Linked DNA regions of Homo sapiens. The protein of the gene in region 1 purifies or fractionates together with the protein of each later gene. This does not show direct contact. Each region holds a gene or a part of one and is shown on either strand. Other genes may lie near its edges. The genes, in order: KMT5B, OGDHL and CARS1.

Region 1 (3,649 bases):
CAGAAACTGAAAAGGCCTAGCTGTCTATACTTTAGTTAGCTCACTGGGATCCCCACCTGGCTATCTTCTCTCCTACCCTGGAGCTCCACAGCCTTGTGCCATGGTTACTTGTGTACCTATCTTATTCCTGCAAGAGAATGGAAACTCAACCAGGACAGGGACTATGCCACCTATGTCTCTGAATGCCCTGGTGTGGTGTTTTGCAAGCAGAAAGTACTCAAATACTTGCGGCAATGAATTAAACTTTCTGACTGCTGGATGAAGCAGGCAGGGACCAGTGGCAGTAAGGGTTATGAGGATCCGGAATCATGGTGCCACTCTTTAGAGCACACCATCTGCTAGGAATATAATGCAAGCCAAATTTTCAATCTTAAATTTTTTAGCAGCCACATTGAGAAAGTTAAGTGAATATAGGTGAAATTACTTTAACAATTTATTTTATTTTATTTTATTTGAGACGGAATCTCGCTCTGTTGCCCAGGCTGGAGTGCAGTGGCGTGATCTCAGCTCACTGCAACCTCTGCCTCCTGAGTTCAAGTGATTCTCCTGCCTCAGCCTAAGTAGCTGGGACTACAGGTGTGTGCCACCACACCTAGCTCATTTTTTTTTTTTGTATTTTTACTAGAGATGGAGTTTCACCGTGTTGGCCAGGATGGTCTCGATTTCTTGACGTCATGATCCGCCCACCTCAGCCTCCCAAAGTGCTGGGATTACAGATGAGCCACCATGCCCAGCCAACAATATATTTTAACCCAATATCCAAAATACGATTTCAGTAGGTAATATAAGAACTATGAATGGGAATAAAATTTAATATGAAATCTGGTGTGTATAGCACACTTACAGCGCTTCTCAATTCAGACTAGCTACATTTCAAGGACTCAAGGGCTGGTGGCTACTGTACCGGACGGTACAGCTCTAGGACTCTAGATCTCAAACCTACACACCCATCTGCAACACAGGGAGCCACATAATCCAACTAGCAGGCTCAATACATCCTGAGGTAAATGAAGCACATTTCATGTACACACACTCACCCCAGAGGCCTGGCAATAAAGTTCTTTTACCTATCCATTTTCAGATATCTGACCCCCCAAATTTTTGTGGTAGAAATATCAGAGGGTGGGTACATGAGGAGCTACATGTTTTTCCTGGGAGATAACATAGGGAACAGGCATGATAGGAAAGAAGATACAGTAGTATATTCTCTTTCATCTGTAACTTTTATCCCTTTTAGCTGGGCTCAACTCTGACTTAATTTTGAGATAGAGTCTCACTCTATTGCCCAGGCTGGAGTGCAGTGGCGCGATCTCAGCTCACTATAGCCTCTGTCTCCTGGGTTCAAGTGATTCTCCTGCCTCAGCCACCCGAGTAGCTAGGACTACAGGTGTGTGCTACCACGCCCAGCTAATTTTTGTATTTTTAGTAGAGATGGGGTTTCACCATGTTGGCCAGGCTGGTCTTGAACTCCTGACCTCAAGTGATCTGCCTGCCTCGGCCTCCCAAAGTGCTGGGATTATAGGCGTGAGCCAATGCCCCCCACCAACTCTACTATTTTTATTGAAGCTGGCATATATACATATATATATATCTGTATGTATGTATTTTTAAGCAACTAATGCTTTAGGGAGGTTTCCACCCATAAAACTAGGATCATTAAAACTTTAGCCCCAACCTTTCTTCTAGGCCAGTAGAAGACTGACTGTGGAAGCCAGGTTATCTAATCACGGTATCCACAACTCTTCAGCAATCATATCACTGAACAGGCATCCAGAGTCAATAAAGGAAAATGAAAAGCAATTTGGCCTAGAGATGGGATCTGGTTCAACTGAGACTTCCGATTTCCCCACTCTGACTCCAGCTGATGGGCCAAGGCAACGGCGATGCATTGGCTACTTCAGGGTAAACTCTGGCTTCATTCCTTACCATGAATTTCTCAGCACTTCAACAATAATTTAGAAGAGAACTTTAAATTAAATTAAAGGCTTATACTAGTAGAATAGTTACCACTCTTTTGTTGCAACTATTTTGGCTCCATTTTGTTCTGATGAGTATCTATTACATGGCAATATTTCAAATCCACTGTCAGTTGCAAACATTCGCAAATAAATAAATACCTAAAACAGGAAAAAAAAATTGATAATGACTTTAAATGGTATACCCTGCTAGACTTTCTTACAATTATAAAAGCAAACCACCCGCAATGATGAAAAAAATGTAAGATCTAGCCTGAGCAACATAGCGAGACCCTGTCTCTACGAAAAACATTAGCCAAGCATGATGGCATGTACCTTTAGTGCCAGCTACGTGGGAGGCTGAGAGGAAGAATCACTTGAGCCCAAGAGATGGAAGCTGCAGTGAGCCATAATCAGGCCACTGCACTCCAGCCTGGGTGACAGAGCAAGATTCTGCCTCTAAAAAAACAATAAAATAAACAAAAAAAGTAAGATCATTAGGTAACAAACTTTATTGTTACTCAAGAGTTTTGAATGTCACAATTTTTCTCATTTTGCAATATTTGCATTACAGTAACTAGCTGAACACCTCTAAACAAAAAATTCAAAATCCTCCCATGAGCATTTCCTTTGAGTGTCAGGTCGGTGTTCAAAAAGTTTCAGATTTTGGAGCATTTCAAATTTTGGGGTTAAGGGTACTCACTCTGTATGAGTACCTAATGGCTTGTTTCCCTTAAGGCTCATAATGAATTTCACCTCTATATGACAAAGTTTTCTCTCCTTTTTTGGTTTTAGAGACAGGGTCTTGCTCTGTCTCCCAGGGCTGGAGCGCAGTGGCATGATCATAGCTCAGAGCAGCCTCTAACTCTTGGGCACAAGCAATGCTTCTGGCTCTGCTTCCTGAGTAGCCGGAACTACAAACTACAAAGGTACACACTACTATGCCTAGCTAATTTTTTTATTCTTATTTTTTTAGAGATGGAGTCTTGCTATGTTGCCCAGGCTGGTCTCGAAGTCCTGGCCTCAAGCAATACTCCCATCTTAGCCCCCACAAAGTGCTGGGATTACAAGCATGAGCCACTGAGCCTGGCCCAGTTTTTTCTCTGGACTGTCATCCAAATGACTGTATGTGTTACAAGATCTTCAGACTGATTAGTTTTATGAAAAATAAATTTAAAATTTCAGTATTAACTAACATTTAGGGTTTTAATTTACTTCACTATTCTTATCCAAATAGGTTAACAGCATCAGTCTTAATAAACTTACATGTTCTTTGAATAATTTCTCCTGCATTTTATTCTTGTTGAGAAAATAGTGCCGTGCCCATTCGCCTGAAGTCAAACATTTGAAGGCTTTCTCCAAGTGTTCATCTTTCTTAAAACGTTCAATTACTTCCTTTAGTTCTTCCTGCCTTCCTTTAATAGGCCTAAATCTGAAAGAAATCAAAAGAATGAATGGGTTATCTGCCACAATCCTTGCGCCACTGATCCATCTTAACAGATCTTGAGAAAGAGCTAATACCCTAAAAACAGCCATGGTTATCAGAGCAAAGATCTAAGAGAAGAGAACAACAATCAATAGTCTTGATTACTACTATTCAAGTAATACTGATCACCTGGATACGCAAGTTCTCTTTTTTCAATCTGTTATTTTAATATTTTTATTTCACTGTTATCTCAGTAACTTCTCTTTTT
Region 2 (3,649 bases), on another chromosome or scaffold:
CGGGCAGCACCCTGAACGTTTCCCTGTATTTAATATACAGTTTTACATCCTTGTTCTTCATTTTTGAAGTCAAGGGTTAGATCACTGTCTGCTTCTTTCAGCCAGCCAGGAAAGACACAATACACAATAGCTGCTGTTTGCTCCTAGGTGGCCCACAATTGATGGGTCCTCAGGCCAGAAGGGAACCCAACCCTGCTCACCTTCCCTCTTCCATCCCCAGGTGGGTGGTGTACAGGGAACTCTGTTCCATCCCACAGATTGGGCAGCTCATTCAGAGGCAAAGCATCATTTCCATTTGCTAATGCCCCCCTGTACCCTAGCCTTGCTGTGGCTTGCTGCTGCCTCACATTTCCCTGACGGAATACCTCCTGCCAGCAGTTCCCAGAGATATTCCAAATGATTACGCTTGTTATGGCCTGAACACCGCAGCAGTCCTCCAATTAGTCCTGTCTGGTCAAGACCAAAAACACACACCATCACTGGGACTCTGACAGAGCAGGGGCCCAGCATGGGAGAGCCTAAGTCTCCAGGAGGAGCAACTGGTGGGGGAGAATTGTTTACTGAACCATTCATTCCATAAACATGAATTAGGCACCTGCTGTATCAGTCCCTGTTCTCCCAGGATGCCCATTCTAGAGGAGAAAACAGAATTAACAAGGGTTAATCTACTCACCCCTCATTCAACAGGCTTTGGAATTGATCCCTTACTAAGTGCTCCTCCACGTACTCGGGGCATGGTGTGTGCAAGGAACAGACCACAAGGACACAAGTCAGTATGCACAAAAAAAAATTCAAGCAGGTGGTAAGTGCTCTGAATGGTGATGTGGCAAAGACTGGCTAGAGGAGTAGGTGCCGCTCAGTAGAGGACAAGGAGAAGGGCTCTCTGGGGAGATGATGTTGGAGCTGAGACCCCTTCCCTTCAGTGCCTGGCCACACCCCAGGAGCCAGTGCAGCCTCCCAGGCTGTGCCTCAGCTGCCCCTCACCTGGTAGGCCCGGATCAGGGACTGCACAGCCAGGTGGTCCTCCACCAATTTGCTGGTCTTGGTCCGACTTGAGACTGCAGACCTGCTCTCATGGACAACAGAAGGGGGCCGTGGCTGAGCAGAGCCAGAAAAGGCTTCCTCGCTGGCTTCCCTGAAGAAGCTGTCCCAGGACTAGGCAGGGCAGAAACAAGAACGCAGCCAGGTCAGGGCCTGGGAAGAGTCAGGGGTGGCCCAGGCTGGGGCCCCAAGGAGTGTCAGGTCTTCCTTGAGGACCACAGCTCTCAGGGCCTTCCCAGGGTGCCTAGATGTACATACAACGATGTTCCCTGCAGAACTGTTTACAAAAATTGACAATGTGAAAACAACCTACATGGCTATCCATAGAAAACTGGCTAAATAACGATTTTACATTTAGAATCTGGAAGATTACACAGTCTTTTAAAAAGGTGCTTTCAGTATTGTGGACATGGAATATTGCCAAGATACGTTTTAAAGTGAATGAAGCAGAAGAGGATGTATGGCTGCTACTCTCTGTGTAGAAGCAAAAAGCAGATGTGAACACACACAGGCATTTGCATGTGTTTTCCATAAGAACAATGTAAAAGCGCTTTCCTCCGTGCACTCCCATACGGCACTGGTGGGAGACTCAGTTGGTACAATCCCCATGGAAAGCAACTTGGCAATACCCATCAAAATTATACACAGCCACTCCTGGACCCAACTATTCCACTTTGGGGAATTTACCCTACAGATGGCTCTGCAGGTGCAAGATGATGAAGGTGTAAGATGATGCACTGCAGCACTGTTCGCCACAGTCAGAGACTAGAAATGAACCAGATGTCCATCAGCAGGAATAGGGGTGGCACATACATGCAATGGAATACTACACAGCTGGACAGAGTGAATAGTGAGGCTCTTCATGTACTGATATGGAAAGATCTTGGAGATACATCACCAAGCGAAAACAGCAGGGAGCAAAACAGTATGTGTTACAGGTTACTTTTGCGTAAAGGGAGACAAATCCAGAGTTACATTTGCAGTAAGTTTACCTAATGCAAGTCTTGGAAAGGATATAGAGGACACTAAGTTGGGGGACAGTGGGAACTGAGCAGATGAGGATAGATTAGGAGGGAGCTTTCTGACTGTGTAACTTCTTATACCTTCTGGCTTTGGATCATGTGACTGCACTGCTTTCCACTGCAGGTGAAGGGGTCAGAGAACAACTTCACTTTTCACCCTCCCATCTAATTTAATTTTTTTCTTTACTATCAGCAAGTATTTATTTTATCAGATCAATACATACACAAACACGTATGTCCCTAATTACATACAAAGGAGCATATGGAGGCAGCATAGCACGACAAAGGGGGCACGGCAGGGCTCAGGTGTGGCTGAGCAGGACATGGCCAGGGCCTCTCAATCAAAACCACCACCCACTGGCTGATTCAGCAAAGGGAAAGCAACAGGCTTTGATGACTGAGGACCTGAGAGGCAAAGAAACCTGCCCAGGATCACACAGCAGGCAAGCTGCTTCTCCCCACTGCCCTGCCACAGCCCGGCCCCCGAGGGCTTCCCTCCCTTGCGGTGGCCCAGGGTAGGGTGGGGATGCTGACCTTGTGGACACTCTGGGGGTTTTCCAACCAGGCGAAGTACATCTCCTCCATGTAACTGGAGCCGCCTCCACCTTTGCTGCTTGGGAAGGTGGCCGGTGGCCCGGAGGACCTGCTGCGCCAGCCAAACACCGGGACGTCATGTGCAGCCAGGAGCCTCGCAGCCTGTACCCCAAGACGGGACGGCAGCAGCCTCAGCTGACTCATTCTGGACACAGGCAATGAAGGAGAGGCATAAATGGCAGGACCAAGACAGGAAGAGGCTCTACCAAGCCACTGTCCGCTCATCAGCACTTGTCATTCCCACTGGGCAGATGGTGCTGGGCTAGGCAGTGATGAGACTGGGAATGTGACACTCTCCCAGCCCCCTGGGCTTACTGTCTGGTGGAAGCTCCCAGCTCAGTAAACTCTATCAATAGATATCAAACAGCCCTGAGCCCCAGCCCTGCTGTGCCACACTCATCCCAGACCACACTCCTTCCCGGATAGTCCCCAAAGCCTGTGCAGAGACATGAACTCCCCAGGCCCTGCCTCAGGGAGCACCCACCTAGGTCCTGGAGCCCACTCGGAGAGCCACAGGGCAGGTGCAGGGAGTACCACCAAGAAGGAGTGGGTCTCAGGCCCACCACCCTAGAACCAGGGCAGGCAGTCCTCCAGGGGTCAGGTGTGTTGTGCATGGTCAGGGAAAAGCAGGGGCAAAAGCATCCAGTGAGCACAGGTGTCGGGGGTGATAGAGGCACACTATCTCAGGAGGGCTGTGGCTCTAGTCATTGCGACCAAAAGTGACCAGTGACTCCCTGTGACTGCAATCCTGGGCCAGAGTGCCCTCTCTCCCAGGCCCAGCCAGAAGGCTGGTGACACTAGGCCCAACAATAGCCCCACTTCATTGCAGGAAGGGCTAAGGTCTGGAGGGGCAGGAAGAGTAGAATGGAAGGCAGCCCCAGGCCCAGCCCAGCGCCACTCAAGACAGCTAACAGTCCAGGCAGGTACAGACTGGAAGCCCACCCAGACCACGGGGAACCAGGCCCTGCAGCTCATCTCACCTCACTCTGTCA
Region 3 (3,649 bases), about 65 Mb from region 1:
ATGGCGCCCGCCTCTAGACCCTGAGCCTGGCTGCTCTTTCTCTCCGCAGCACCCCTGTCTAACACGTGCCCGCATTTCTTTCCTTCACCATCTGCCCCACCGCTCCATCTACCTTATTCACTGCTCGATCTTCAGCATCTACAACTGAGCGTGTGACATTCCAGATATCAGCTAAAGTTGCCTAGGGCACAGATGAGTGGACAGCAGAATGGCACCACAGAGTGCATGCCACCAGTGGTGGGCTGGCGTTCCCCTGTGGCACTGGGCCTCATGCACCCTTCTCAGAAAGACACCTGCACAAGGACCAGTGCTGGGAACCGGCCACAGCCTCTGCTGCTTTGAGCCCCCAGGGGCTTGCTTAGCAGGAGCCCTGCTGCCCAAAGATACCAGAGACATAAGAACAAGTCACTTTTCACTTCAGCTCTTCCAACAGTCCAAGGAAAGAGAAAGACAGGGGTGGACTCTGGCCCCACTGAAGGCGCCTGGGGGGTGCCGGGAGCTCTTGAGGGCCTCTCACCTGCCCCATCCCCACAGTTACAGGCCCAGTGTCAGCACTGACACTGCCGGGGCTTCCCTCTGAGAAGAAGGAGGCTGCTTACATGGAGATGCGCTCTCCTCCCAGCTGGAGATGAGATCAGGGAGGACGGAGGCGGAGGCAGACCCACAGAGGCAGCTCCAAGCACCCCAAAGTGAGGTCCTGGAAAACTAACTCTAAATAAATATCAGACTCCTACAAACTCTTTTGCAGAGCAACTTCCAGCCAGGAGACTTCTAGTTTAGCTGGATATTTCCCTCCAACAGCTCTGCAGCTGCCAGCAGGGGTCCCATTTCATGATAAAGAAAATGAAGTTCACTAAAGATTAGAGAACTTGCCAGAGGGATGGACAGAGCTGGAAGGTGAGCCTTGTCCCCTCACAGATCAGGCCACAGTTCGAAAGCTGTTCCCCAATGCTGACCCTCCACATTCCTCTCCCCTGTCCCCTCCCTGAGCCTTGGTCTTCTGCAACTGCTCATGCCTGGGTTGGACTCCACGACAGCAAGAGGGAAGAAGAGACAACAGCAGCACCCTGAGAAACAGTGACACAGCATCGGCTTCCAGCTGAGACAGCGAGCTGACAGTCACGTGCCTCTCACACTCAGAATGGATTCTGATGGAGAGACCACCAGCAACAGCCCGAACACTGACAGTGACGATGGTTGATGAGAGGGGGTGACAGGTGATTTTAATTCCCTCTTTTTCTTCATTGCTCACATTTTCTGCAGTAAGCATCTGCTATTTTTAAAATGAGAAAAACATCAAATGTCCTAACGGCGGCTGCAGTGGCTTTTGAGCGCTGAGGAAGCAGTCTGGGAACTGAAGCCGCTGTGTATCCGCTCTCTGGAGACCTGAGGGGCGGCCCCGACGCCCTCCAGGGCTGAGTACCTACACTCACACACACGGCGGCATTTCCTCACGGTAAAACACGCTCATAACATCAGCCCTGTAAAGCTGCAGGCCATTAAGTCAAATGACACTTGTAAAATGTTTAAAAGCTGCCTGGCACAGAGCCAGGGGCCCCATTTGCCATCATTATTATCATAATCGCTCTGGTATTATTAATGTTATTGTAATAGCCGCATGCTACACACAGAGAATTTCCTGGAGTTTTCCTAGGGCTCACACACCCATTTTTATTTAATTAATTTTATTATTTTAAAAGTTTATTACCAAATCTGCCTTGATCTTGGATCACATAATTCTTAAATGTACCGTCTAGAGCAGGCTAGACGGCTCATCAAAAGGGAACCAAGACCATGCTTGGGAAGGATCTTCTCAGAGCAGAAAGGTGCTGGTGCCCAGGGAAGCACAGGAGAATGACAGGCTTCCATGAGATGGACGCAGACAGTCATTTGGGTAATCGTGGTAGCTGCATTTAAGTGTGTCTCGAGGAAACAAATAAAAATAGGTCAGCTTTCAAGTGGTCATGGGTTTGAGCCAGGCTGTGGATCAGTCTGATGCTGAGATCAGATGAGAACACTTCTGAGCAGACTGAAAACCTCCCAGGGACCTGTTCCTCGACACTGGCCCTCATCGTAGAGCCTGCACGCTCCGTGCCGAAACTCCTGCTCTGCCCCCATGAGAAGGAATGTCCACCACCGGATGACCTTGCAGTTCAGTTCATCAACACATTGAGGGACATGGGAATGTCCCAAAGGTGGATGGTGGTTGTCACCGGCTACAAAGGTGGAGTCTCTACAGAACATTTATTGAAATCACATGCAAGTACCAAGCAATTGCTCAGCACAGATACCAAAACAAAGCCACACCAAATGAACAACAACCCTGACACGTCAAACAACTGTGGCAGTGCGACCTCTCCCTCTCTCTGGCTCTTTCCTATCAGCATTTATTTTTTATTTATTTTTATTTTATTTTATTTTATTTTATTTTTTGAGACGGAGTCTCGCTCGTCACCCAGGCTGGAGTGCAGTGGCATGATCTCGGCTCACTGCAAACTCTGCCTCCCGGGTTCAAGCGATTCTCCTGCCTCAGCCTCCCGAGTAGCTGGGATTACAGGTGCCCGCCACCATGCCCAGCTAATTTTTGTATTTTTAGTAGAGACGGGGTTTCTACATATTGGCCAGGCTGGTCTAGAACTCCTGACCTCAGGTGATCCACCCACCTCGGCCTCCCAAAGTGCTGGGATTACAGACGTGAGCCACCATGCCTGGCCTCCTGTAAGCATTTAAACCTCTCCCGGCTGCCCTGTTTCTCTTCCTGCGTTCCCTTGAGGCTCTCCCAGGTCCACTCCAGGCATGGCCCTGGTGTGCCTTCAGCAGCAGAACCTGGGGGATCCAGAGAAGTCACATTCTTGGGCTCACCAGAGACCTGCCAAATCAGAATCTCTGGGGTGGGCCCAGCAAGTGAGGTTTAAACCAGCTTCCCCATGGGTGGAAAGCTTGCTAAAATGCAGACCCCTTTACAGCAGGTCTGAGCTCCTAATAAGTGCCCCGGTTTGGTGGGGGTCTGCACCCCTCACTCACCCTGACCCTTTGCCCTCTGACCCTGCTACTTCAAAGGTCCCACCAGGGTCCTCATCTTGTGGGTGTCCAGGCAACATCTCACCCTGCAGGTTACTCCCTTTCTGCAAATGTTCCCCTGGTCCCACCCTCTACAGCTGCTCCTCTTGGGTCCTTCCCAGTGATCCACTCCCTGCCCAAGAAGTGTTCAGAAAGGGGACCGGAAAAAGCCCCCAGACATGAATCGTGGGGAGGAGAGAGGGGCATGCACCCCTGCTCTCACCAACTAGGAGCCAACACTGCCCACTCCCAGAGACCAGCGCCTCCTCCCACAGGTGAGGGCTTCCCCTCCCACTCCCCGTCCTGATCACCAGCCCCGGAGGTCCAGCTGCAACTCGTTCACAAAGGTGGCCCCCAGGCATCCTCTCTCACCCCCAAGAACAGCATCTCCATCTTCCTCCTTACTGGGAGGGAGGTTATTCATTATTAGGGGCATCCAACATCCCTCACAATGAGCCTGTGGGGTGATCAGACAGCAATATTGCCACCCAGAGCACCCACACTGGAAATGGCTTAATCTCCACCCCAAGGGTACTGCCTAAGGCTCTTCAAATACCCGGAAACATGGTACCTGAGTTCATAGAGGAGC

Evidence for each region.
Region 2: the proteins of KMT5B (region 1) and OGDHL purify together in Homo sapiens (affinity purification with mass spectrometry; one large-scale study listed by BioGRID and IntAct). This does not show direct contact.
Region 3: the proteins of KMT5B (region 1) and CARS1 purify together in Homo sapiens (affinity purification with mass spectrometry; one large-scale study listed by BioGRID and IntAct). This does not show direct contact.

The regions. Positions count from the first base shown.
Region 1 is NC_000011.10:68,171,797-68,175,445, forward strand, and holds part of KMT5B (histone-lysine N-methyltransferase KMT5B), read right to left. Parts: intron 3,388-3,649; coding exon 3,222-3,387; intron 2,118-3,221; coding exon 2,008-2,117; intron 1-2,007. UniProt on the Homo sapiens protein: Histone methyltransferase that specifically methylates monomethylated 'Lys-20' (H4K20me1) and dimethylated 'Lys-20' (H4K20me2) of histone H4 to produce respectively dimethylated 'Lys-20' (H4K20me2) and trimethylated 'Lys-20' (H4K20me3) and thus regulates transcription and maintenance of genome integrity.
Region 2 is NC_000010.11:49,755,792-49,759,440, forward strand, and holds part of OGDHL (2-oxoglutarate dehydrogenase-like, mitochondrial), read right to left. Parts: intron 2,803-3,649; 5' UTR 2,802-2,802; coding exon 2,598-2,801; intron 1,156-2,597; coding exon 985-1,155; exon of another isoform or gene 674-984; intron 1-673.
Region 3 is NC_000011.10:3,050,817-3,054,465, forward strand, and holds part of CARS1 (cysteine--tRNA ligase, cytoplasmic), read right to left. Parts: intron 1-3,649. UniProt on the Homo sapiens protein: Catalyzes the ATP-dependent ligation of cysteine to tRNA(Cys).